7 linked regions of the Homo sapiens genome follow. The protein of the gene in region 1 purifies or fractionates together with the protein of each later gene. This does not show direct contact. Each region holds a gene or a part of one and is shown in the gene's direction. Other genes may lie near its edges. The genes, in order: ANAPC16, PLCB3, STK25, ARHGAP18, SNX9, ROCK1 and CCDC43.

Evidence for each region.
Region 2: the proteins of ANAPC16 (region 1) and PLCB3 purify together in Homo sapiens (affinity purification with mass spectrometry; one large-scale study listed by BioGRID and IntAct). This does not show direct contact.
Region 3: the proteins of ANAPC16 (region 1) and STK25 purify together in Homo sapiens (affinity purification with mass spectrometry; one large-scale study listed by BioGRID and IntAct). This does not show direct contact.
Region 4: the proteins of ANAPC16 (region 1) and ARHGAP18 purify together in Homo sapiens (affinity purification with mass spectrometry; one large-scale study listed by BioGRID and IntAct). This does not show direct contact.
Region 5: the proteins of ANAPC16 (region 1) and SNX9 purify together in Homo sapiens (affinity purification with mass spectrometry; one large-scale study listed by BioGRID and IntAct). This does not show direct contact.
Region 6: the proteins of ANAPC16 (region 1) and ROCK1 purify together in Homo sapiens (affinity purification with mass spectrometry; one large-scale study listed by BioGRID and IntAct). This does not show direct contact.
Region 7: the proteins of ANAPC16 (region 1) and CCDC43 purify together in Homo sapiens (affinity purification with mass spectrometry; one large-scale study listed by BioGRID and IntAct). This does not show direct contact.

What each region holds. Positions count from the first base shown.
Region 1 is NC_000010.11:72,233,012-72,236,360, forward strand, and holds the end of ANAPC16 (anaphase-promoting complex subunit 16), read left to right. Parts: coding exon 1-105; 3' UTR 106-2,849; downstream 2,850-3,349. UniProt on the Homo sapiens protein: Component of the anaphase promoting complex/cyclosome (APC/C), a cell cycle-regulated E3 ubiquitin ligase that controls progression through mitosis and the G1 phase of the cell cycle.
Region 2 is NC_000011.10:64,254,530-64,258,029, forward strand, and holds part of PLCB3 (1-phosphatidylinositol 4,5-bisphosphate phosphodiesterase beta-3), read left to right. Parts: intron 1-218; coding exon 219-287; intron 288-368; coding exon 369-509; intron 510-704; coding exon 705-784; intron 785-866; coding exon 867-920; intron 921-1,011; coding exon 1,012-1,087; intron 1,088-1,191; coding exon 1,192-1,292; intron 1,293-1,846; coding exon 1,847-2,013; intron 2,014-2,088; coding exon 2,089-2,235; intron 2,236-3,500. UniProt on the Homo sapiens protein: Catalyzes the production of the second messenger molecules diacylglycerol (DAG) and inositol 1,4,5-trisphosphate (IP3).
Region 3 is NC_000002.12:241,495,378-241,498,584, reverse strand, and holds part of STK25 (serine/threonine-protein kinase 25), read left to right. Parts: intron 1-235; coding exon 236-350; intron 351-897; coding exon 898-969; intron 970-1,206; coding exon of another isoform or gene 1,207-1,233; exon of another isoform or gene 1,234-2,024; intron 2,025-2,050; coding exon 2,051-2,187; intron 2,188-2,883; coding exon 2,884-2,923; 3' UTR 2,924-3,207. UniProt on the Homo sapiens protein: Oxidant stress-activated serine/threonine kinase that may play a role in the response to environmental stress.
Region 4 is NC_000006.12:129,703,678-129,707,177, reverse strand, and holds part of ARHGAP18 (rho GTPase-activating protein 18), read left to right. Parts: intron 1-3,500. UniProt on the Homo sapiens protein: Rho GTPase activating protein that suppresses F-actin polymerization by inhibiting Rho. Rho GTPase activating proteins act by converting Rho-type GTPases to an inactive GDP-bound state.
Region 5 is NC_000006.12:157,906,746-157,910,245, forward strand, and holds part of SNX9 (sorting nexin-9), read left to right. Parts: intron 1-2,919; coding exon 2,920-3,045; intron 3,046-3,162; coding exon 3,163-3,280; intron 3,281-3,500. UniProt on the Homo sapiens protein: Involved in endocytosis and intracellular vesicle trafficking, both during interphase and at the end of mitosis. Required for efficient progress through mitosis and cytokinesis. Required for normal formation of the cleavage furrow at the end of mitosis.
Region 6 is NC_000018.10:21,042,314-21,045,813, reverse strand, and holds part of ROCK1 (rho-associated protein kinase 1), read left to right. Parts: intron 1-346; coding exon 347-522; intron 523-1,627; coding exon 1,628-1,712; intron 1,713-3,104; coding exon 3,105-3,249; intron 3,250-3,500. UniProt on the Homo sapiens protein: Protein kinase which is a key regulator of the actin cytoskeleton and cell polarity.
Region 7 is NC_000017.11:44,686,977-44,691,112, reverse strand, and holds the start of CCDC43 (coiled-coil domain-containing protein 43), read left to right. Parts: upstream 1-1,336; 5' UTR 1,337-1,359; coding exon 1,360-1,563; intron 1,564-2,099; exon of another isoform or gene 2,100-2,172; intron 2,173-2,819; exon of another isoform or gene 2,820-2,935; intron 2,936-3,089; exon of another isoform or gene 3,090-3,259; intron 3,260-3,364; exon of another isoform or gene 3,365-3,463; intron 3,464-4,136.

The sequences.
Region 1 (3,349 bases):
GCTCGGATGGAAAAACTAGCTGGTTTGGTAGAAGAGCTGGAGGCTGACGAGTGGCGGTTTAAGCCCATCGAGCAGCTGCTGGGATTCACCCCCTCTTCAGGTTGATACTGCCTGGATGGTCACCTCTGGTGCGCAGCAAGTGCAAAGCCAGTGGGGGACTTTCTCACAGCTTACATAGCCATCCAGAGATCCACAGCTACGTCACTGAATTGTTAATGCACATTTGTACTTGGTTTCTCTGTATCTATTCACAGGCAACAAATACTTATATGTGTGATCTTTCAGGGAATGTTTTGTTTATTTGTTTTTAAAAGTATTGGGAATCAGATTAAGACAATCAGTTTCAGAGAACCAGGAGGTTTGGGGTTAAGAGATACTCAAAAATTTTCACAAGCCAAGTAGGGCATATATCAGATTTGGCCAACTGAATGGCGTCTGTCCTGTCATCCATATGGTGCCTGGAAATATTTACCAGTCAAGGTCAAGGTCAGCATCTGTGGTTAAAAATATAGCATTCTGACCTAAAAAAGTTATTTTGCAGATGAATGTGTTTTCAACTCAGGACCTATCCAAATGAGGAATTTTTAAATATTCTTTTTTTTTTCCTATTTTTAGACATCAATTCTATAGATTCTGACTTTTTCTAACCTCTTATAGACATGCCAAATGCTGGCAAAAAGAAGTGCTTTTTGGATATGGCAGCACTTGTAAAAATAAAGCAGTAAGCAAAATCCTTTTAAACACAGAAATCCTGAGTTCTTCTCATTGGTGGACTCAAGCAATTCTGTAGCAAATAAATCCTTTGAAAGAGCTCCAAATTGGTGGCATTATCCTTTCAAAATCTCAGGGATTTGGGATGAAGTGAAGAGGTCAAATTACTTTTTAGAAGAAGGGAATCTAAAAACCATCTCTCCTAAACAAATGGTAGACTGGCTTTACTTAAGGGATATTTGTCTTTATAGGAGTACATAAATTTATCTTAATGATATTTAAGTAGTTTTTTTTTTTTTTTGAGACGAAGTTTTGCTCTTGTTGCCCAGGCTGTATCGCAATGGCGCGATCTCTGCTCACTGCAACATCCACCTCCCAGGTTCAAGCAATTCTCCTGCCTCAGCCTCCCAAGTAGCTGGGATTACAGGCACCCGCCACCACACCCAGCTAATTTTTTGTATATTTAGTAGAGACGGGGTTTCACCATGTTGACCAGGCTAGTCTCGAACTTCTGACCTCAGGTGATCCACCTGCCTCAGCCTCCCAAATTGCTGGGATTACAGGCGTGAGCCACCTTGCCCAGCCAATTTTTTTTTAAAGAGACATGGTCTTGCTATGTTGCCCAGGTTGGTCTTGAACTCCTGGCCTCAAGAGATCCCCCCAACCTTGGCCTCCAAAGTGCTGGGATTACAGGCATGAGCCACCGCGCCTGGCCTCAAGTAAGTTTTTATACCATGATAGGGGAAAACCTGGAAGGCTAAGAGATGTGCTGTTTTCCTTCATGGGACCCCACTTTCCACAGTAAACAACTGGTATAATCATTTATTACGTTGTATGCAAATTTTGCCTTAGACAACATTTGTCTGGTTCCTTATTAATAACTTGCATCTGATCTGCTTAGAGTTGCTTAATTATAAGTAAATATAATCCCAGTAGCATTTAGCCTTAATCTCAAGAGTTCAAAATGTTTAACACATTCTACCTGACGGGAGGTGGTGACCTCATTCAGTCGGTTAAGAGCCTGAGCCCTGTGAAGTTAAACACCTGCTCATGGTCACATAGCCCAGGCAGAAGAAAATCTCGGACTTGGAATAGATCCCAGTTGCCTGATAATTCATCTCATTATTGCCTCTAAAGCAAATTGGAGACTGGGCACAGTGGCTCCCACCTTTAATCCCAGCACCTGGGGAGGCTGAGGTGAGTGGATCACTAGAGGTCAGGAGTTCAAGACCAGTCTGGCCGACATGGTGAAACTCAGTCTCTATTGAAAATACAAAAATTAGCTCAGTGTGGTGGCACACACTTGTAATCCCAGCTACTCAGGAGGCTGAGGCATGAGAATCGCTTAAACCCAGGAGGCGGAGGTTGCAGTGAGCTGAGATCACACCATTGCACTCTAGTCTGGGTGACAGAGCGAGACTCTGTCTCAAAAAAAAAAAAATAAAGCCGGGCGTGGTGGCTCACGCCTGTAATCCCGGCACTTTGGGAGGCTGAGGCAGGCGGATTGCCTGAGATCGGGAGTTCGAGACCAGCCTGGCCAACATGGTGAAACCTTGTCTCTACTAAAACTACAAAAAAAATTAGCCAGGCGTGGTGGCGGGCGCCTGTAATCCCAGCTACTCAGGAGGCTGAGGCAGCAGAATCGTTTGAACCCGGGAGGCGGAGGTTGCAGTGAGTGGAGATCGTGCCTGTGTGCTCCAGCCTGAGCAACAAGAGCGAAACTGTCTCAAAAAAAAGAAGAAAATAAATAAATAAAAATCAGAGCACAAGAAGTACCAGTCCACCAACTCACATTTTCTATATTAATAATTCTTAACTAAAAGAAGTTCCATATTCGACAGCATTTTAGTTTTTTAATAGTACTTATTAGCATCAACCATCTTGATAATCACCAAGGGAAAAATTAAAAATACCTAGACTGCAATAAACCTTTAAATTGGATTTTCAGTGAGAATTTAGAAGCAATCACTACCTTTCTCGTTTCATTTGTGTAACCATGCAGCATAGGCACTGTGTTACATCATCTTTACGCTTTGGTATTTGAACTTATTACAGAATTTTTTCTCTAAATTGGATGTTTCTTTATATGACCTTGGAAACTGAAGTGATCTTAGCATTAAACAAAAATGCTTTTTGAAGCACCTTTCTCATTGATCACTTAGCTGCTATTTTAGTCTTACCAAGAATAAGACTCTCACAATTTTTTAAAGAGAGTACCTCCCTCTCTATACCTTTTTGTCAGTCATTATGTTGCATCGTCCACAACGCCTGTTACTATGCTTTGGGCTCAAAGATGGTCCCAGTTGCTGATCTGTCATCTGTCTTCTCTTGTGCCAGTCACTCACAGGCATGAATTATAATCCTCTGAATAACACAGCAAGATACGTAATACCCCCTAATATAGAAAAGGAACTTGAAGCTCAGAGCAAGTGTCACTTGCCAAGGCTGCACAGCTAAGTCAATGGCCAAATCTGGATTTAAGTTCAACTCAGCCAGAATCCAAAGCAGCTTCTTTTAGATTCACTATGCCACATCCCACCAAACCCAACCCAGCACATTGTATTAGGAAAAATCCTAAAACTTTTGATTAAATGGTAAAAGGAAGTAACTACCTGGAGAAAATAAGGCTTCCGCTACC
Region 2 (3,500 bases), on another chromosome or scaffold:
GACCCCTGTCCCAGACCCCTGCCCTGCCCGTGGGGGTGGGGCCCGGCTGCAGGCTGACCTCTCCCACTGCTGCCCAGACAGGAAGTGCTCAGGGCAGGAGCTGAGGCTGGGGCTATAGCCAGGGGCTGGCCATTCCCTGGCCTGGGTAGAGAGCTTGGAAGCTCCTGGCTATTGCCCTGCAGCCTCTCATACTCAGCCTGGCATCTGGTTCCCCCCAGGAGGTGGACACACTGGACATCAGTTCCATCAGGGACACACGGACAGGCCGGTACGCCCGCCTGCCCAAGGTGAGTGATGAGCCTGGGAGTGAAGACCACAGCGAGGCTGTGCGGGAGCCCCCTCTTCACCCTTCGCTGTCACCTACTCAGGACCCCAAGATCCGGGAAGTTCTGGGCTTTGGGGGTCCCGATGCCCGGCTGGAGGAGAAGCTGATGACGGTGGTGTCTGGGCCAGACCCAGTGAACACAGTGTTCTTGAACTTCATGGCCGTGCAGGATGACACAGCCAAGGTGGGCTGGCACCAAGGGGACGAAGGGGGAGTCACTGTCTTATTCTGTGAGTCGGCCGTCACTTACCGAACACCTGCTGTGTTCTAGGCTGCTCTGTGACCTACTGTGTACCAGAGGCAGTTGTGGACCTGGGTTGTGGCTGGGCAGCCCCTGTGTCCCCCACTCACCGCCTCCCCGTGTATACTGGCCCCCCAGGTCTGGTCTGAGGAGCTATTCAAGCTGGCTATGAACATCCTGGCTCAGAACGCCTCCCGGAACACCTTCCTGCGCAAAGCGTGAGCCCCAGGCCACCCGAGGGGGAGCCGGGGGGTTCACGTGGCCGTTTTCAGGGTGTGACCTCTTCATCTGCCTTCCCAGATACACGAAGCTGAAGCTGCAGGTGAACCAGGATGGTCGGATCCCCGTCAAGAAGTGAGCACCCCTTCCCCCAGCACCTTCCTCCTGCCCTGACCTTGGTGACCTTTGTCCTCCACTGACCCTGAACCCCTCCTGCCCGCATCAGCATCCTGAAGATGTTCTCAGCAGACAAGAAGCGGGTGGAGACTGCGCTGGAATCCTGTGGCCTCAAATTCAACCGGGTGTGTGGGGTGGGGACAGGGGCGGGGTGGGGTGTCACGGTGGGCACCCACCCTTACGGGGCTGCCCGCCCCTGGCTTCTCACCCCACACTCCTCGACCTCCAGAGTGAGTCCATCCGGCCTGATGAGTTTTCCTTGGAAATCTTTGAGCGGTTCCTGAACAAGCTGTGTCTGCGGCCGGACATTGACAAGATCCTGCTGGAGATGTGAGTGGGCCCGGCCTGCCTCACAACCCCTGTGCTCTGTGTTTAGCTTCTGCTTAGCGTGCCTCTAGCTCAATGGGGAGAGGGGAAACTGGTGGGCCGGGTCCTGGAGCGCCAGGGGGCGGAGGGGTGCCCAGGGAGAACCTGTCGGTGATGTTCCTGTACTCAGACCCGCCGTTTCTGCCCCTCAGTTACAGGCAGCTCTGGGCTAACCCTGTGCCAGGGTTGGTTTAATCAGCCCACTCTGCAATGGGGTCCAAGCCTCAGGTGTGTTGTGAGGTCTGGAAGCGAGGGGTGGTGGGCTGACCACTTGGCAGCTCCTAAGCCCTGGCCATTGCTGGTGCCCACTAGTCTGCTGCCTTGACAATCCTGAGTAGTCAGGAGAGTAAAGGGGGAAACTGAGGCCCAGAGGTTGGCCATGACTCACCCAGAGTCCCACTCACTGGGTGCCAGATCCAGGGGCAGGCCTTCTGACTCCCTTGCCCAGGGCAAGGGCTTGGCGACGGGGTGGGAGCCCTGCCAGGCTCCATCCTGACCCAGCTTCCTGTCCCCTCCAGAGGCGCCAAGGGCAAGCCATACCTGACGCTGGAGCAGCTCATGGACTTCATCAACCAGAAGCAACGCGACCCGAGACTCAACGAAGTGCTGTACCCGCCCCTGCGGCCCTCCCAGGCCCGGCTGCTCATCGAAAAGTATGAGCCCAACCAGCAGTTTCTGGAGCGAGGTGAGCTGGCTGGGGTGCAGGTGGGTGGGGGCAGGTGGGACCCCAGCTGACCCTGCTGATCCTCTCCCACCCCAGACCAGATGTCCATGGAGGGCTTTAGCCGCTACCTGGGAGGCGAGGAGAATGGCATCCTGCCCCTGGAAGCCCTGGATCTGAGCACGGACATGACCCAGCCACTGAGTGCCTACTTCATCAACTCCTCGCATAACACCTATCTCACTGGTGAGTGGGGAGCAAGGGTGGCACCCGTGACCTCTGCCCTGTGACCCTTGCACAGCCCCACTCCTCCTGGGGCACAGTCCTTTTGGCCCATTTGCTCATTCATTGGCCAGTGCTGGGGATGCAGGCAGGGAACAGGCAGCCAGCCCTGAGCAGTGGGGCCTCATGGTGGCTTTCCCAGGGAAGGGCTGGAACAGCTTGTGTTAGGGCCTGCAGCAGGAGAGACTTCAGGGTCCTTTTTTTTTTTTTTTTTTTTTTTTGAGACAGAGTTTCGCTCTTGTTGCCCAGGCTGGAGTGCAATGGCACGATCTAGGCTCAGCGCAACCTCTGCCTCCCAGGTTCAAGCGATTCTCCTGCCTCAGCCTCCCAAGTAGCTGGGATTACAGGCATTCGCCACCACGCCCGGCTAATTTTGTATTTTTAGTAGAGATGGGGTTTCTCCATGTTGGTCAGGCTGGTCTCAAACTCTCAACCTCAGGTGATCCGCCTGCCTCGCCCTCCCAAAGTGCTGGGATTATAGGCATGAGCCACCTCGCCCAGCCTGCAGGGTGCTTTTAAGAGGCTGGAAGGGGGTTGGGTGCGGTGACTCATGCCTGTAATCCCAGAACTTTGGGAGGCTGAAGCAGGCAGATTACTTGAGCCCACGTTTTGAGACCAGTCTGGGCAACATAGCATGACCCCATCTCTACAAATAATTTTTAAAAAATTAGCTGGGCATAGTGGCGCATGCCTGTGGTCCTAGCTGCTTGGGAGGGTGAGGTGGGAGTATCGCTTGGTTCTGGGAAGGTTGAGGCAGGAGTAAGCTGTGATTGCACCACTGCACTCCAGCCTGGGTGACAGAGTGAGAGACCCTTTTCTAAAAAAAAAAATTAAATAAATAATAAAAAAGCAGAAAGGAAGCTGGTGCGGCAGGGTGCAGAGTGCTGGAGATAGGTGCCTGCTAAGAGAGGGAGAGCAAGGCAGGGCTAAGCCCAGGGGCCTAGAGGCACTTGGATTCATCCTGGGTGTGAGGAAGAGGCTTTTTGGAGGGTGAAGCAGAAGAGGTGATGTGACCTGATATGATATGTTTTTAGAAGGATGATGCCAGGTGCTCTATAGAGATTGGATTGAGGCCAGGCACAGTGGTTCACACCTGTAATCCCAGAACTTTGAAAGGCTGAGGCGTGTGGATCACCTGAGGTCAGGAGTTCGAGACCAGCCTGGCCAACATGGTGAAACCCCATCTCTACTAAAAATACAAAAATTAGCCAGGCATGGTGGTGGGCAAC
Region 3 (3,207 bases), on another chromosome or scaffold:
CCCACTCCAGAAGCAGGGGCGTGGGCCCTGGGGGTGAGGGTGACCAGATATAGTGTTGGGCAGGGACCCCCTCAAGGCTGCAGGACAGGGCCTGCTGAGGCATCAGCTGGACCCCGTGGCCTGGCAGAGCCCCGTCTGGTACCTCGGGTTTCCCTTGGCCGTGAGGTGTGCCCTGAGGCCCTCATGCCTCCTGGCCCTCTCCCCACTGGCCCTGGCAACTCCTCATCCTCTTCAGTGATGGCGAGGCGGAGGACGGGGAGCAGGGCCCCATCTGGACGTTCCCCCCTACCATCCGGCCGAGTCCACACAGCAAGCTTCACAAGGGGACGGCCCTGCACAGTTCACAGAAGGTCTGTTCCTGGCCTGGCCTTTGCCCTCTGTGCACCCCTGGGGCCGTGGGATGGGCTGGATGCGGGACCCAGCTTTGTCCACCCAGTGTCTGGAGCTTGGACAAGGAGCTTGGGAAAGGCAGGGGTGGTCTGAAGCCCACTGTGGCACTAGGCCTGGTGTGGAGACCCCGAGCCCCAGCATGTGCCGGGAAGATGAGGGCCTGTTTGGAGCCAAATTTGTGAGGAGAGGGTGGGAGTCACAGGCCCTCAGAGTCAGGAGAGGGTGGGAGTCACAAGCCCTCAGAGTCAGGAGAGGGTGGGAGTCACAGGCCCTCAGAGTCAGGAGAGGGTGGGAGTCACAGGCCCTCAGAGTCAGGAGAGGGTGGGAGTCGCCCTCAGAGTCAGGCCATCCGGGTGGCTTGATGGTTTTGGGGCCGGCCCTGGACATGTGCCCCGACAGGCTGCTCCCAGCCTCTGTCTCTTCAAGGCTAGAGCCTGGGCAGGGATGGGAGTGCCCTGCCTGTCACCTGCACTGCCCTGCTCACCCTGGGCCTCCACTCCTTTGCAGCCTGCGGAGCCCGTCAAGAGGCAGCCGAGGTCCCAGTGCCTGTCCACGCTGGTCCGGCCCGTCTTCGGAGAGGTGAGGATGGGGCTGGGACTGGGCCTGGAGTCCCGTCAAGGACAAGGCTGTGACACTGTTGCACGGAGATGTCTCCCTCACAGCACTGTGGGGTGGTTTCAGCTTCTAGCTTTCCTGCAGCTGATTGTGGGCTGGGTTTTCTGAGTGGAAGGAGCAGAATCTGCTGCAATGACTCCTTTTGTACTCCCAGACCTGCCAAGGTTCTCTGGGTTCCTAGGGTGACTTTTTTTTCTTCAGGTGCAAACACAGATGATCCTTCTATAGAGAAAGCAGAGAAGGTTTAGTCGGGGTCCATCCCCGGGCAGGTGCCGCCCTGGTTAGTCACGTGACCCTGCATCAACGTCACCTGCTGATGGGCAGTCAGCACCGTCCTCAGAAATGTGATACAGCCAGGATCTGTGTGCCCAGGGCGTGGCCAGCGGGCTTGGGCCCAGGTGTGCCCTCCAGGAGCCCCACCTGGAGCCTGGGGAGGGAGGATGGAGGATGTGGGTGAGAGGTGGTGAAGGCAGGGCCTGCCTGAGGACGGCAAAGGGAGGAGCACGGTCGAGGGACGTTGGCCCCAGCCCATGTGGAGGCCCCAGCGGGAAGCAGCCACTCGGGTCCAGGTCCTGGGCAGCCTGCTGATCCAGCCACAGCCCCCCGAGGGTGGGTGACACCCGGTGACAGGAGGCTCAGATGCTGGTGTCCTGATGGAGGTCAGATCTGGGCCTGGCGGTGCCGTGTGCTTTGGGGGTTTCTGGGCTTCGTGTTTTTGGGTCTGATTAGACCCATTGAGTGGCTTCCATGACCCTCGGCTGGGAGGAAGCCATCTGGTCCCCTCCTGAGAACCGAGGTCCGAGATTCCCCGGAGTGTAGGGGGAAGGTAGGTGCTGTGGGGAAGGACCACTAGGGTCCCCGTTGGCAGGGCAGGGGCAGAGGCTTCCTTGGGCCACCTCACTTCCCGGCTTGCTGAAGGGCTCCCGGGTGTGGCTCCTAGGCGAGAGCCCTGAAGGCCTCCGGCATCACTGTGGCCGAGCAAAGGAGCAGGCTCCCTGAAGGCCTGTCCTGGGGTCCAGGGTCAGGCGTGGTGGTCTTTTCACAGCTCAAAGAGAAGCACAAGCAGAGCGGCGGGAGCGTGGGTGCGCTGGAGGAGCTGGAGAACGCCTTCAGCCTGGCCGAGGAGTCCTGCCCCGGCATCTCAGACAAGCTGATGGTGCACCTGGTGGAGCGAGTGCAGAGGTGAGGGCGGCCGTGCCATAGGGTCGGGGAGAGCACCCCCACCAAGAAGCTGGACGTGGGGTGAGGTCCAGTGCTCACTCGTGGGTGTGGCTGCATTTGGCACTACATGGGCTCGCTTCACTCTGGGAAGGCGCGGCGTGGCATCCTCTTCCTTGTTTGGACCCAGCTCACAGGGCCATGGAGACTTTGGGGCTGGAGAGAGTGGGCAGGGCCTTTCCAGTCTAAGGGTCTGAGGCAGTGTCTCAGGGTCCCGGCCTCAGTGGCCACATGGCTGTCCTCAGCTGGCCTCTGCCCCTCCACCTGGTGGCTCCCGGGAGCTACTCTGACACGCTGGTGGCAAAACGTCAGAGCTGCCCCTGTGCTGACTCGAGTCCTTAGCAAAGAGACAGGGCAGGACAGATGCTGGGCCCTCCACCGCCCAACGGACTTAGGGTCCAACCGCCATGCCGCCGGCAGATGCGCCAAGTCCTGGTCCACACACAGGGACCCCTTCCCGGCGCCCCTGGGCAGCAGCTCTGGGGGTGGGGTCTGGGCCAGTCATTGCTGCTCCTGAGACCCTGTGCATTGGGGACACCTTCAGACCCACGTGGTGCGGTGGCTTGTCAGGGCTGCCACCGCAGACTGCACACCCAAGAGGCCGTCAGGAGCCTGGGCACAGAGGTGCACGCACGCAGCAGTGGGCTCTTCTCTCTGCAGGTTTTCACACAACAGAAACCACCTGACATCCACCCGCTGAAGCGCACTGCTGTTCAGATAGGGGACGGAAGGTCGTTTGTTTTTGTTCTGAGCTCCATAAGAACTGTGCTGACTTGGAAGGTGCCCTGTGCTATGTCGTGCCTGCAGGGACACGTCGGATCCCGTGGGCCTCACATGCCAGGTCACCAGGTCACCGTCTCCTTCCACCCCTGCAGTGTGCTGTTGTGCACGTCAGGGACGCTGTTCTCTATGCCCACTGCCCTCCTCCCTCTCCTGGCCCAGCAGTATTGCTCACGGGGGCTCCAGCCGCCGGCGTGGCCCTCA
Region 4 (3,500 bases), on another chromosome or scaffold:
CACCACAACCTCTGCCTCCCAGGTTCAAGCTATTCTCCTGCCTCAGCCTCTATAGTAGCTGGGACCACAGGCATGCACCACCACGCCTGGCTAATTTTGTATTTTTTTTTTTTAGTGGAGTCGGGGTTTCTCCATGTTGGTCAGGCTGGTCTCGAACTCCCGACTTCAGGTGATCTGCCCACCTTGGCCCCCCAAAGTGCTGGGATTACAGGCATGAGCCACTGCGCCCAGCCTGAAAGTGTTTGATTTTTAGCCTAGCCATACCAAGTCTTTTTTTTTTTTTTTTTTTTTTGAGACAGAGTCTTACTCTGTCACCCAGGCTGGAATGCCGTGGCACGATCTGGGCTCACTGCAACCTCCGTCTCCAGGCTCAAGTGATTCTCCTGCTTCAGCCTCCCAAGCAGCTGGGATTACAGGCGAGTGCCACCACCCCTGGCTAATTTTTGTATTTTTAGTAGAGACGGGGTTTCACCATGTTGACCAGGCTGGTCTCGAACTCCTGACCTCAGATGATCTGCCCACCTCATCCTCCCAAAGTGCCGAGATTACAGGCATGAGCCACTGCACCCGGCTCCATGTCCTTTTTTATTACCATTTGGTCTTTTGAAAAGCTGAGATAGTAGGGAATTAATATTTTTGGAAGTAATTTGTTAGCTAAATTTTCTCCATTCCATTATCCCTCTTTATCAGAAAACAGTCATTGAATGTCAGATTAAGGAATTCCTCCCACTCCTGGTTAGAGCCTCTCCCTTTATAGAATCCTGTTTTTCTTTTGTATGTTTCCTCCTCAAAACATGAGGATTTGAAGAAATATGTTAACATTAGTTGTCATGGCCGACTTGTACACAGTTGAATGTTTCCAAAGGAAACCACTTTTTATGAGTAGCTATATTTATAAGACTTTGTTTACTTGTTTTTCAAGCAGGCTTCTTAATATTTAGTTTTGAAAAGAATTTTTTCGAAGAATATTGTGTTTTGTCTATTCTTACTGTTCTCTCTTACCTTCCCATTTTAAGAGAAATGGTTGTTTGCTTTGCATATTTTTTGCTAATATTTTAATATGAATGTCAAGTAACCTTTTTTATTGGGCCTTTTAATTCCTTAGCTAACTGAATGGACTGATGAGTGAGATATTTTTATGCCTTCTCTGAATAAATGTATGGCATTCATCATGTAAGGTCTTGTTGACCCAACTTGCCATTGGTATTGGGTAGGCAGAAACAAGAGGCACTACACAGGGGTGACATAAACCCAGAAACCCTGGGTTCTGGGGCCAACCTGTCTGGGGTCATATCCCAGCTCTCTCATTCATTAGCAGTGTGACCTTGGAGGAGTTATCTCTCTACCCATAAATTGAACTTCATAATATTACTCACCTGATTAAGACAACTGAGTGGGATGACCTCTGTCAAGCCCATAGAAGAGTGTCTGGTTTGTAGCTAGCTGCTACTTTCCTTAATACTAGGTAAAGAAAAGGAAAGAAAGGATTGAGTTTTGCAGGATATAGAATATTCTCCCTTGTTTCAGAAGCGTTTTTCTGAATATTATTTTGTCATGTGTTAAGAAACATGGGCATTATCCATATGCTTAAAAAATGACATATTTGAGAATGAACCATAATGTAAAAGTTTAGGCCTTTGAAGTTTGAAAGACCTTGGAAATATCATCCTGATCCATAGCACCATTTATGATTTGAACTGGTAACAATTGCCTATACCAGGCCTTTCTTGGGGGGTATTGATGGGCATTGAGGTCTGCAAATATTGACTCTATGGCAAGATAGAATGTGGGTGGATCCTCTTTTGGCAGCTGGACTCACTCCTGTCTCCATGCTTCCTTCCTCTGCTTTAAGAACTACTACTGCCCAGCATGCCAAATGGAAGAGGACTATCATCTTTATAAGCTTATCTCAGTTCTTGACTTGTTCATGTCTCACCCATTCCTTGGTTCTGCAAGCATAATCATTCAGTCATTCCACATATAAGAGCTCTCTCTTACTGTGTGTCAGGCAATTGTTTAAATACTGGGGTTGTAATGGGGGGAAATAAACCAGACAAACATCTGGGTGCAGGGAGGGTAGCCTGGAGGGGAAAATAAAGACCTGAGCAGGTGACAGGTGAGCCCCAAAATATCTGGGGGCAAGAATTAGAAGAAGAGTTTTTAAGGCAGATAGTGGGTAGAGAGTGTAGAAGCCATAAGCCTAGATAGAGTAAGTCTGAAACCAAGCACCCAGAGAGCAAAGAGCCCTGCATGACTGCAGGGGTCAGGATAAGGAGGAGGGAGGAAGAAGAAAGCAAGGTGGGAGTTGATAACCTTATAGAACATTTGAGGACTTGAGTTTTTGCTGAAAGTAAGATGGGAAGCCATTGAGGGAGTGGGTTTTGAGCAGTGGAGGAAGAGAGCACATTTAAAAGGTCCCTCTGGCTGTTATATTGATTATAGAGTGTAGAAGCAGTGGTACTGCTTAATAGGTTAAGGCAGTGGTGGTTTGGGCCAGGGTTTCAGTTGTTTTAGTAATGAACGGGGTGAGCAGTGGAATCTTTTGACATTAGGGCCTGTAGGAGATGGACAAATGAGAATACCTGAAGATTCAAGGTTTTTGCCCTAAGAAACTTGTAATGTTAAAGTGATCATTAATTTAGATAGGGAGGACTTGCAGAGGGGCATAAGGGGGCTGGGGTAAGTTGAGCGAGACATGAAGCTCAGTTTTTTTTTGTTTGTTTTTTGTTTTCAGATACTGAGTCTCGCTGTGTCACCCAGGTTGGAGTGCAGTGGGGTCATCTTGGCACACTGCAGCCTCCACCTCCCAGGTTCAAGCGATTCTCATGCCTCAGGCTCCCCAGTAGCTGGGATTACAGGTGCCTGCTACCATGCCTGGCTAATTTTTGTATATTTAGTGAAGATGGGGTTTCACCATGTTGGCCAGGCTGGTCTTGAACTCCTGACCTCAAGTGATCCGCCTGCCTCGCCCTCCCAGAGTGCTAGGATTATAGGTGTGAGCCCTCACGCCTGGCCTGAAGCTCAGTTTTGAGAAATATCTTTTTGAGATAAACATTAAAGTAAGAACATGGCTGGCTGTCTTGATTAGTTCAGTGTTTTTACATGAATCTTCACAGGATTTTAAAAACCTATGTAGTATACCATTTAAAAAGTTTCTTCATTCTGAATTAGTGTATTATTACCTGATCATATATATATATTTTTTTGTTGTTGAAAAAAAGGGATGGTAATGAGTTTTTATAATGCAATTGTGTAATATTTAAATTTTATTTTTTCTAACCTTAGCTTCTAAAGCGTATTTCCTCATTCTAATTTCATAGAATTTAGTGACTAAATGGATTTAAACCTGTCCATGGGGATAATTGTTTTCCAGATCAATCTCTTCTTCAATTTCATGACATAAGAGTCCTTTGTAAAGGCATTTTCTTCACTGTGGTTTAAAAACCCTATCCATAGTTTCTTCTTGAATTATTAGAGGTTGCACCCGGTGTCCAACTGGG
Region 5 (3,500 bases), on another chromosome or scaffold:
AATGTGACACAAGCCCTTCGGTTTCATTCCACATTTTGATTGGTGGTAGATTTTCTGTCTAGGTGATATTTAGTTGTAGATTCCCAAATGAAATTCTGGAAAAGAGAACTGTAGCTATCTTCTGATCCTATTGACTTAACCCTGTAACAATTAGATTGGGAACCTGAAGCCTTGAGTGTTCTCATCCTGGACTCAATCGAGGATGAGGAAACATCTGGTCTTATTCTGTAGTCTTTGGAAACTTGATAAAATTGCAGGAATAGTATTAGATTCTCTAATTACTTGTGCCTGCATGTTTGAAAAACTCCAAATCCTGGAAGCCTCCAAGCTGAAGAGCTGTAACCAAGAGCCCTTTTTATGCTTTTTCCCTCAAAGCAAATTTGGGATAATTAACTTCTGAGTAGTTATATTAAAGATTTTTTTTTCCTGTTTTCTCTGGACTTAATAAAAATTGAACATGTACCATTATTCTTTTCATGACATTTAAAACTCCTCAAAATCAAGAGCGCACAGCTCTGCCTCAGTTTTGTTTTTTTGTTTGTTTGTTTGTTTTTAAGACAGAGTCTCACTCTGTCACCCAGGCTGGAGTGCAGTGGTGTGATCTTGGCTCACTGCAACCTCTGCCTCCCGGGTTCAAGCAATTCTCCTGCCTCAGCCTCCCGAGTAGCTGGGATTACAGGCATGCACCACCACGCCTAGCTAATTTTTTTTGTATTTTATAGTAGAGACGGGGTTTCACCATATTGGCCAGGCTGGTCTTGAACTCCTGACCTTGTGATCCGCCCACATTGGCCTCCCAAAGTGCTGGGATTACAGGTATGAGCCACTGCGCCCGGCCTGCCTCACATTCTTAAAGGGGACTTTGTCCCAGGTTTGCAGTGGTGGTACAGAGCTAAGGGTTCCAGCCTTTCATTGACCGGCAAGTTTTAAGTAGAACTGCACCCATGCACCCAGTAGGCAGGTCTGCCTGTGTGGGCGTCTATACATGGAAGAAGCTGAGGAAAGCCACCGCGTCTTCAGGAGGCCCAGAGAAAGCAGAGACTAACTCTTTGCTCTAAAAGTGCAGTAACCTTGCCCACTCATGAAACAGAGCCCCGTGAAATTGGGCCTTAGCCAAGCACAGTTGCTGCTCTCGGCCCACTCACTGAGGGAGGTCCCGAAAGTCATCTCCTCTGCAGCTTTCAGCTAGTTTCTTGGATCTGGGCTCTCCCTGAGGGGGTTATAGTAATTGTTCTCAGAGATTTTAGTCTCTTTTTAAACTACTCTTATCCTTGGAGTAGGTCACCTTCCTGACCTAACAGCCTCTGAACTTTAATATCCCAATCCGCTTTTCCCATCTTCCTCTTAAAAAAAAAAATTAGGACTGGGTATACCTTTTTTTCCTTTTTATGTCTGTCTGGCCTTGCCTCTCTGAGGTCTCAGCCGAAACAAATCTCTCTTCCTTCAGCGCAATCTGTGTGATTTTTCTCATTTTCTTTTTACTTTCTTATGGTACTTTTTCAAGTCTGCAAGAATAAAACCTGTTCCATAAATTATTTCATTCTCCTTGAATCTCTGAATGAATCTCTGAGTGAATCTGCTTCCTGAATAGTGGTCCTTTTACAGTCCATGTGTTTGTTTTTTCATTCTCTTCTTGGATTATAACTCAATTATTTTTCATTTTCAAGCCAAGAAGATAGATAACATTCTCAGTATAATAAGGACTTCTATTGCTCTGAAATGTGTTTTGATAAGAGCTACTGTCCTGCAGTCTGAACCTCTAGAATCTGTCATTGTGATCAAAGTTTATGAAATGAATGAGGCAGAACCAACTTGAGACTATTGGTGACTCAGGTAGTGATTCCAGAAGCCTGTACATGAGCTCCAGCATCCAGGTTCCTCTGCAGCTGCCCCCATGGCCTTGGATGCTGTTTTAAATAAGATGAAAAAACCAGGTTTGGGACAGCAGACCTATTGTCACCTAGCAGTGCCTAGAAGAAATGATCCTCAGGCTCAAAACTTACACGAGGTCTCTACACCCCCACATAGAATTTAGCTGGTTTCCCTTCCTCACCTCCCACCACAACTAAAACCCCAGTGAGCTAGTGTAAGCCTCGCCTGAATTTGTGAACTTTTGCCCTAGTCACAGATAGAAGAGAAGGCCAGTGAGAAAAGAATGGAGGCCTACCCTCTTCAGGCAAGCCTTGCCCAGGTGGACGTGATACCCGGGGGTTGGAAGTGAGCCAGCCCACTGTGCTTAGGCACATAGCAGTCCACGGAAGAAAACAGCTAGCCTGGTTCTTGCTTTTAAGATGTAGTACCTCCCCCTCCCCCCACCTTGCCACTAGTAGTAAAACAATGACTATCAGGCTCTGGCCAATCTGATTAATCGTTTCTATGAGCCAGAACAATGCTACTCAAAGTATGGTCCACAGACCACTTGCCCATCTGAAAACTGCTTGTTCCTGATCCACCGTGAGATAGGTACAGTACATGAGAATATTTTGAAAACTTGAGGACAATTTGGTATTGTTGAAAAATCAAAATGTGTAATGTTATATTTCACCAAACTATTAGTCTGTGATAGATTCGAAATTTTTAAAAACTAGTCCTTCATCACGTGTAGCTTGAGACAGCTAGACTAGAAAGAAACATTGTCTTGTAACCAGCACTGTCCTTGGGAGAGGGAAGCTGGTGTCTCCTCTCCATGGGCTGAGCTACTCACGTGGGAGCAGAAGGGTTTCCCACAGGTGTGTTCTTTAAACATAATATCTAACAGGAACAGAAACCATTGAACCATTTATGTACCTTTCAAAGAGGAACAAGAATGACCCTCCAAAGGACTTCTCATTCTGAAAAGAATTACTTGCTGATTCACATCAATTGTATTTATTATTTTTCCATGTAACAAAATTACTTCTTTCTGGAACATTGGCATAGGTTGGAGATTATGGCCCAATGTGGGTTTATCCTACCTCTACTTTTGACTGTGTGGTAGCAGATCCCAGGAAAGGCTCCAAAATGTATGGTCTAAAGAGCTACATCGAATATCAGCTAACACCTACTGTAAGTATCCACGTTATCAAAAGCAGAATCATGTTTGGATCACTGATTGCAGCTTGCTTTTTTCTTCATTTTCTAGAGTTGGCATTGGTAACCTTTTCTCTTTCCCTTATTTTGTAGAACACTAATCGATCTGTAAACCACAGGTATAAGCACTTTGACTGGTTATATGAGCGTCTCCTGGTTAAGTTTGGGTCAGCCATTCCAATCCCTTCTCTTCCAGACAAACAAGTCACAGGTGAGTGTGTGTAATGCTAAACCCAGGATGACAAATAGAAAGACTCCAGTCAGATTATCTTCCTGTAAGTCAGTGATGGCATTTTCCATCCTGTAGAGCAGCAGGATGCAGGAGTTGGAAACAGTAATTAAATACAGCTATGAAGAGAGAACCATTGCATGTTGTACATCTATCTGGAAGTTGCCTAAACGTCTCACAAGAACGTTTAATGTGCAAATCA
Region 6 (3,500 bases), on another chromosome or scaffold:
CAAGTTAAATTAGAAATACAGTATTTCTTTGCCTAGGAGATTTGTATATTTACTGAAAATATTACAGTTTAAAAAAATTCTCAGTAAAAGAAATTCAAATAGTGTAGAAAATTATGAAGAAAGGATATCTCCATGTAACTCTTCTGAATAATTATGTTATAGTCATTTTGCATATACAAGGGTCTTTGTGGCATTTATGTTTGTCTTTTTTTAAAACTAGACTTGCAACTTCTGTAATTTGATTATTTTACTTAAATCTTTTATTAACATTTTTGCCACTTTTTAAGTGAAACAATTTTGTTTAACATTAATGAATGTGTTTTGTTTGTTTTTTCTATTTGTATAGCTTTTTTATGCATTCCAAGATGATCGTTATCTCTACATGGTGATGGAATACATGCCTGGTGGAGATCTTGTAAACTTAATGAGCAACTATGATGTGCCTGAAAAATGGGCACGATTCTATACTGCAGAAGTAGTTCTTGCATTGGATGCAATCCATTCCATGGGTTTTATTCACAGGTAAAGATAAAAGTGCTTTAAATTTTCTCATTTGTTGAGGGAAATAGCTAAAAATAACTTTAACATTTCTTACTCTCAGTTCACCCATTCTTCTTCCGTATGACATAAGTGACCTTTCAGAACTCAAGACTCTGGCCAGGCGCTGCCTCACGCCTGTAATCCCAGAGCTTTGGGAGGCCGAGGCAGGCAGATCTCTTGAGCTCAGGAGTTTGACACCAGCCTGGACAACATGGTGAAACCCATCTCTACAAAAAAAAAAAAAAAAAACACAGGTGTGGTGGCATGCACCTGTGGTCCCAGCTCCTTGGGAGGCTAAGGTGGGAGGATCGCTTGAGCCTGGGAGCAGAGGTTTCAGTGAGCTGAGATCTAGTCACTGCACTTCAGACTGGGTGACAGAGTGAGATTCTATGTCAGGAAGGGGGGAAAAAAAGAACTCCAAACTTTGAAGTTTATAATTTTAGCATTTCAATTTAATGTTGATATAAATGTATTCTTTAATATCCCTTAATCTGATCATATAGCCTTTAAATGGTGTTCTGAAAAGTAAAACTTGTAAACTAGTTTTCTAAGGTATGTGCCAGGAGTTAAACACTTTGATGTTAATTTTTTAAATATGTAACTTAATTTGCTTTTAATTAGTGAATAGGTCGTATTTATTCATTAGACGAATAGTTTCATTTGTTGTACAAACACTGCTTGAATCCTGTGTGCAGTTGCTGTGCCTACATGTCAGGGATCAAAAATGAAAGTGACTTAGACCCTGCCGTGGGGTTTTTTTATGTACTTACCTATCTAATATGTTTCAATCACCTTTTATGTCTGAGTGTTGTATTTTTGATGGTCTGTCTCTCTCAAATGATTTGATTTTCCCTCTGAAAGAATGAAACTTTTAAAAAAGGAATATATATGTTTTCTTCTGAGGCATTAACATATAAAGAAGTTTCTTTGATGAAATTTAATTTATAGATGTGGATAGAGAACACATACAGATCAAAGATGGCCTTACCTAGATTGAGGATGCTTGACCTAAAATAACTGCCTCATATAATTTTTACAGTGTCTAATCTGTTTCAGAAAATACTGTACTATTTTTTCCCTCCTGCAGAGATGTGAAGCCTGATAACATGCTGCTGGATAAATCTGGACATTTGAAGTTAGCAGATTTTGGTACTTGTATGAAGATGAATAAGGTTAATTAACTAGATTTTAATTTAGTTTTTGCTAATTCAAGGTAGATGCTTCTTTAGAAAATGGTTTAAGAATTCTTTAGAAAATGGTGTAAGAATTTACTAACCATAGCTGGACTTGTCCAGAATTAATATGACCTTATTTGTTGAACTAGATACCATGGTTTCAATGTTGTATTAGTAACTTGTTAGTGATTTATTTTTTCCTCTCTATTTAGGGTAAATATGGATTGCCAGATTTACTAAATCCTTCATAACAACTCTAATATACACTACTGGTAACTAGGAATGGAATTAGCTTAAATGTCACTAAATACTTATGCCAGTGTTAAAATTAGACTTTCATAAAAATTGGATTCCAGTAATGTGTGTATTTTTTAGTGTTTTACTTCAGTTAACATATAAAAGATTTTACTGCTTATTTTAGGAGTGAGTCTTAAAAGATACCTATCCTCACTGTTTATATAATAAATAACATATACACAGCTGTATATGTATATACATATTATGTATATGTATATACATATACATTATGTATATGTATATACATATAATAAATAACATAAATAAATATGTTATTTATATAATAAATAACATATACACAGCTGAAGGAGCTGAAGGAGCTGTGTATATGTTATTCCTTCACTTCATATACACAGTGAAGGAAACACTGCATGAGAACTTCTGTATGAACATTTAGTTATAATGCTGTTTCATTAATACCAGCGAATATAGGTAACAGCTAACAAGTCTCTCAGGTTTGTTGGGGGAGGGCAGTTAAAATTCACATCAAATAGACATTCAGTGTGCTTTACACTATTATGCCCTTTTCCCATACATATGCTTCCCCAGTTTGTATTTGTACAGTCAGCTTTTGTATGTTTCTTTTGTAGTTTCAAACATAGTTAAATAGCTATTTTAGTAGAAAATAATGAAGTCAGTGTTTATACCAATATGTTGTAAAATGCCCTATCCTATGAACTCCCCAGTGTATTTGCACTGGCCTGTGTACTTGTTCTCAGCAGTTAAATGGTTTCATGATATTGGCACAACTTGGGGAATAATAAATGTGGCAGTATGTTTTTCTAGTGAGCATTATTACAAAATAATCACTGGTGTGTGTATATATGTGAATACACATATAATGTGTGTGTATATGCATTCACATGTATACACATACATACATTATATGGTATATATGTATATGGTGTGTATATAGTATGTATATATATGATTAAGCTGTGTTAATTTTTGTCAGGTTTCCATTCAGTTTTAATATATGATATTTTATAGCTCAAAGATTTGGAGTCCCATAGGTAATATTAATAAGAAAGTCATTTTAAATAATTGAGACTTTATATCCTAATTCAAAATTTGACCTGCCGCGCTTTTTAGGAAGGCATGGTACGATGTGATACAGCGGTTGGAACACCTGATTATATTTCCCCTGAAGTATTAAAATCCCAAGGTGGTGATGGTTATTATGGAAGAGAATGTGACTGGTGGTCGGTTGGGGTATTTTTATACGAAATGCTTGTAGGTGAGTAAGGAAGATTTTATGTCTCTCTATTACAGTTGTTCATCTCAAAACTTGCCACTTGGCTCTTTCTAATATATTTATTATATTAAGCAATCTTGATTTTATTTGTGGGTAATAAACATGATCCAAACCTGCTTCGTATGTGTTTTTAAAAGCATTTAGAGGCTTAGAGCAACTTTGTGATGTGTTCTTTTATATATTAGGTGTATGTTTTTAGTTTAATACATACCTAATAATCTTTTTAAACGGGT
Region 7 (4,136 bases), on another chromosome or scaffold:
CCATATCTGTCTCCTTATCTTTAGTGATTTTGTTTGTTCGTTTGTTTGTTTGTTTTTGAGATGGAGTCTCACTGTCGCTCAGGCTGGAGTGCAGCGGCGCGATCTTGGCTCACTGCAACCTCCGCCTTCCGGGTTCCAGCGATTCTGAGTAGCTGGGATTACAGGCCCGCGCCACCACACCTGGCTTTTGTTGTTGTTGTTGTTTGTTTTGAGACGGAATTTCGCTCTTGTTGCCCAGGCTGGAGTGCAATGGCACGATCTCTGCTCACCGCAACCTCCGCCTCCTGGGTTCAAGCGATTCTCCTGCCTCAGCCTCCCACGTAGCTGGGATTACAGGCATGTCCCACCACGCCCGGCTAATTTTGTATTTTTAGTAGAGACGGGGGTTCTCCATTTTGGTCAGGCTAGTCTCGAACTCCAGACCTCAGGTGAGCTGCCCACTTTGGCCTTCCAAAGTGCTGGGATTACGGGAGTGAGCCACCGTGCCCGGCCTTATTTTTGTATTTTTACTAGAGACGGGGTTTCACCATGTCGGCCAGGCTGGTCTCGAACTCCTGACCTCAGGTGATCCACCCGCCTCGGCTTCCCAAACTGTTGGGATTACAGGCGTGAGACATGGCGCCCGGCCTGTCTCCTTATCTTTAAAATGTGGACAATAAAAGCATCTCCCCACAGGGCTGTAGGGAGGATTACAAGAGATAATGCATGAAAAGCTTTTGGCACAGTGCCTAGCAGAGGGTGGGGTACGCTTCTCAAAGAATAGTCCCGTGCACGCGTTGAATCAATGAGTGGAAGAAATAACTTGAGGTTGCCTGTTTATTTACTGAGTGCCTACCATGGAATCAGGGAAGGTTTTCTGCAACCTTTACTTTGACAGGGAAGGGCTTGTACAGGTGAAGGTGGTAGCCGTCGGTAGCGACGACGAGGGTATTCCAGGCTGTCAGGAGGTTCTTGCCAGACAGCTGTGTGGGAGTGGGCGGCCAGCATCCCCCGAAAGCGCGGGGAAGGCAGCTCGGTCGGGTGGAGGAAGCGATGGCATCCACGCTGAGCTCCAGTCCTGGGTAGTTATTAGCCGCGTGACTTTGGCCAAATTACTGCACCTCTCTCAACTTCCCGAACTGTAGAATGAGTCTGTTAAGAATACTCACATGCCAAGCATCTTGTGAGATCACGCGACCGCACGTATGCGAAGACGCGCTTCATCTAGAAAGCACAAAACTCTCAAGCCGGCCGACACGGCTGCGCTCTTTGCACTTACGGGCCTGGGCTTCCTCTTCAGGCATGCGCGGTGGACCTGCGGCGCGGCCCGTCAGGCACTGCGGTAGGCGCCCTAGGGGCTTGCAGGACCCTGACCCCAAGATGGCGGCGCCCAGCGAAGTGGCCGCGATAGCCCCTGGCGAAGGCGATGGCGGAGGCGGCGGCTTTGGCTCCTGGCTGGACGGACGGTTGGAGGCACTGGGAGTGGACCGAGCCGTTTATGGAGCCTACATCTTGGGTATCCTGCAGGAGGAGGAGGAAGAAGAGAAGCTGGACGCTCTGCAGGGGATCCTCTCTGCTTTCCTGGTGAGTAGCCTGGACACATTCCTTCAGCCTCTGGCCAGCATCTGAGGACCTGTCAGTACTTTGCACCCTCCCTCCCCTACCGGGTATCCCAGAGGCTCAGTGGTCTCACCTGGGAGAGGTATACTCCTCTGATATCTGGGCGGCGGGGGAAGGAGGTTGCTCCCCAACCAGGTGTGGGAAGCCTGAAAGCTGCAGGTACACAGAGAGGAAGGGCTTTCTCGTATTCTTGGGGACAAGGCCCTCTCCGATGCTTGTGAGTGAGCCGAGGAGGGTTCTTCCGAAGGCATTGAAATGTCAGAATGGGAATGTTATCATAAATATCTGACGACCAATTCCATTTCCATCCGTTTACAGTGTTCACTGGGGGTATTAAAATGCTCTTGGGAGGTCTGTGCCTATTACAAGGCAGTTCCCAGGGCTGTCCCATGACAGAAGCCTGCAGGAAGTGCCCTTTTGATTCTTATATGGATGTAGGAGTCCATAAAAGGTAAGCTGGTGGTAGAAGTCTTTTCATGCCCACGCAGAACTGAAGCAAACGTCGTGCTTGATCCATTACAGTATTTACAGTAATCATTGGTGGTGGGAAGGAGGGTATGAGAGAGATCAGAGCTTTAACGAAGAGAGAGAAACTTAGTCCTTAGCCTGTTAGAAGCAAGGTATTCAGAAATGTGTACTTTAAGCTATGTTTACATAGTAAGTCACCCAGATGTCCACTTTTTCAACCTGATCATTTCTGCTGCCTTCATCTTCACTTCCCACACCTCCAACATACACACTTATTAGACTGGTTATTACAGATTAAATTGGTTGTAGGTGCTACCTGTGGCTGTCTAACAAATTGTTTCCTTTTAAATACAAGCTTAAAAATAAAATTTACTTGAATCATCACTAAATGCTGTAGAAGCTAGAGTTGTCTCTGCATTCATGGATTAGAGGAGATCCTGGATACCTGATTGCTACTGTGAGAGCCACCTGTCTGTCCATCAAAGGCTTTATCCTCTGGCATTTATTACAATGGACAGGTTAGAAAAATGGGTTCTTTGTTATTCTCAAAACCAATTTTGAAAGGCTAGTAATAGAATCAAAATGTACCATGAGGTGGGGCACAGTGGCTCATGTTTGTAATCTCACCACTTTGGGAGGCTGAGGTGGGAGGATTGCTTGAGGCCAAGAGTTCCACACCACACTGGGCAACATAGCAAGACCCTGTCTCTACAAAAAAATTTAAAAAATTAGCCAGGTATGGTGGCGCATACCTGTAGTCCCAGCTACTCAGAAGTCTGAAGTGGGAGGATCACTTGAGCCTAGGAGGCTGTGGCTGCAGTGAGCCGTGATTGTGCCACTGCACTCCAGCTTGGGTGACAGAGTGACCCTGTCTCAAAGAAAAAAAAATTAGTATAAATATATATAGATATAAATGTACATATTCATATCTCATTTTTTTAAAAGGGTAGAAGGCAGAAACATTTTCAAATCCAAAAGTGTTTTGTGAAAGCGGAAACAAGTGCTAGGAAAAAATCACTCACATTTGGTGGAAGCAGTTCATAGATTGGGTACATGGTTGAAATATAACACTAGTGCAGCTGTCCCAGATTCTTCTGGCAGTAACCCATTTGAGTTCCAGAGCCTCTTCTGGCAAGATTGGCTTATAAATGGGAAAACTTTAACACAGCCTGTGAGGAAGCTTGGAAGTTCACTGGAAATACAAGACAGTGGAATCAATTCTTTTTTTGGACCACAACATTACAGATTATAGGGAGAAAGAGTAGGAGGCAAGCAATTTAAGGTAGTTTTTATTTACAGCTGGGAAGTTTCTAAACACTCCATGAAGCTGTTGAAATAACTTTGAGACTTCTTGGTACCAGCTTCTTGATCAGTCCATCATTATTTGGAGCTGTTTCTGTTGATAAAGGTAGACATTAGTTTGCCTTTTTTTTTTTTTAAGAGAGTCTCGCTCTGTTATAGTAATGTGATCATAACTCACTGTAGCCTTGAACGACTGGACTCAAGCAATCCCCTCTCATCAGCCTCCCAAGTAGCTAGGACTACAGGCACCTGCCATCACATATCATGCCTGGCTAACTTTTTTTTTTATGTTTTATGTTTTATTTTTTGAGACAAAGTCTCACTCTGTCACCCAGGCTGGAGTGCAGTAGCAAAATCTCGGCTCACTGTAACCTCTGCCTCCTGGGTTCAGGTGATTCTCAGCCTCCCGAGTAGCTGGGATTACAGGCATATGCCACCATGCCTGGCTAATTTTTATATTTTTAGTAGAGATGGGGTTTCACCATGTTGACCAGGCTGGTCTCAAACTCCTGACCTCAAGTGATCCACCCATCTCAGTCTCTCAAAGTGCTGGGGCTATAGGCGTGAGCCACCACACCCAGCCATGCCTGGCTAATTAAAAAAAAAAAATTTTTTTTTGTAGAGACAGGGTTTTGCCATGTTGCTCAGGGTGGTCTTATGCTCCTGGGCTCAAGACATCCTCCTGCCTTGGCCTCCCAAAGTGCTGAGATTACAGATGTGAGCCTCTGTGCCTGACTTGGGCTAGGATTTAATATGAGGAATTTAGA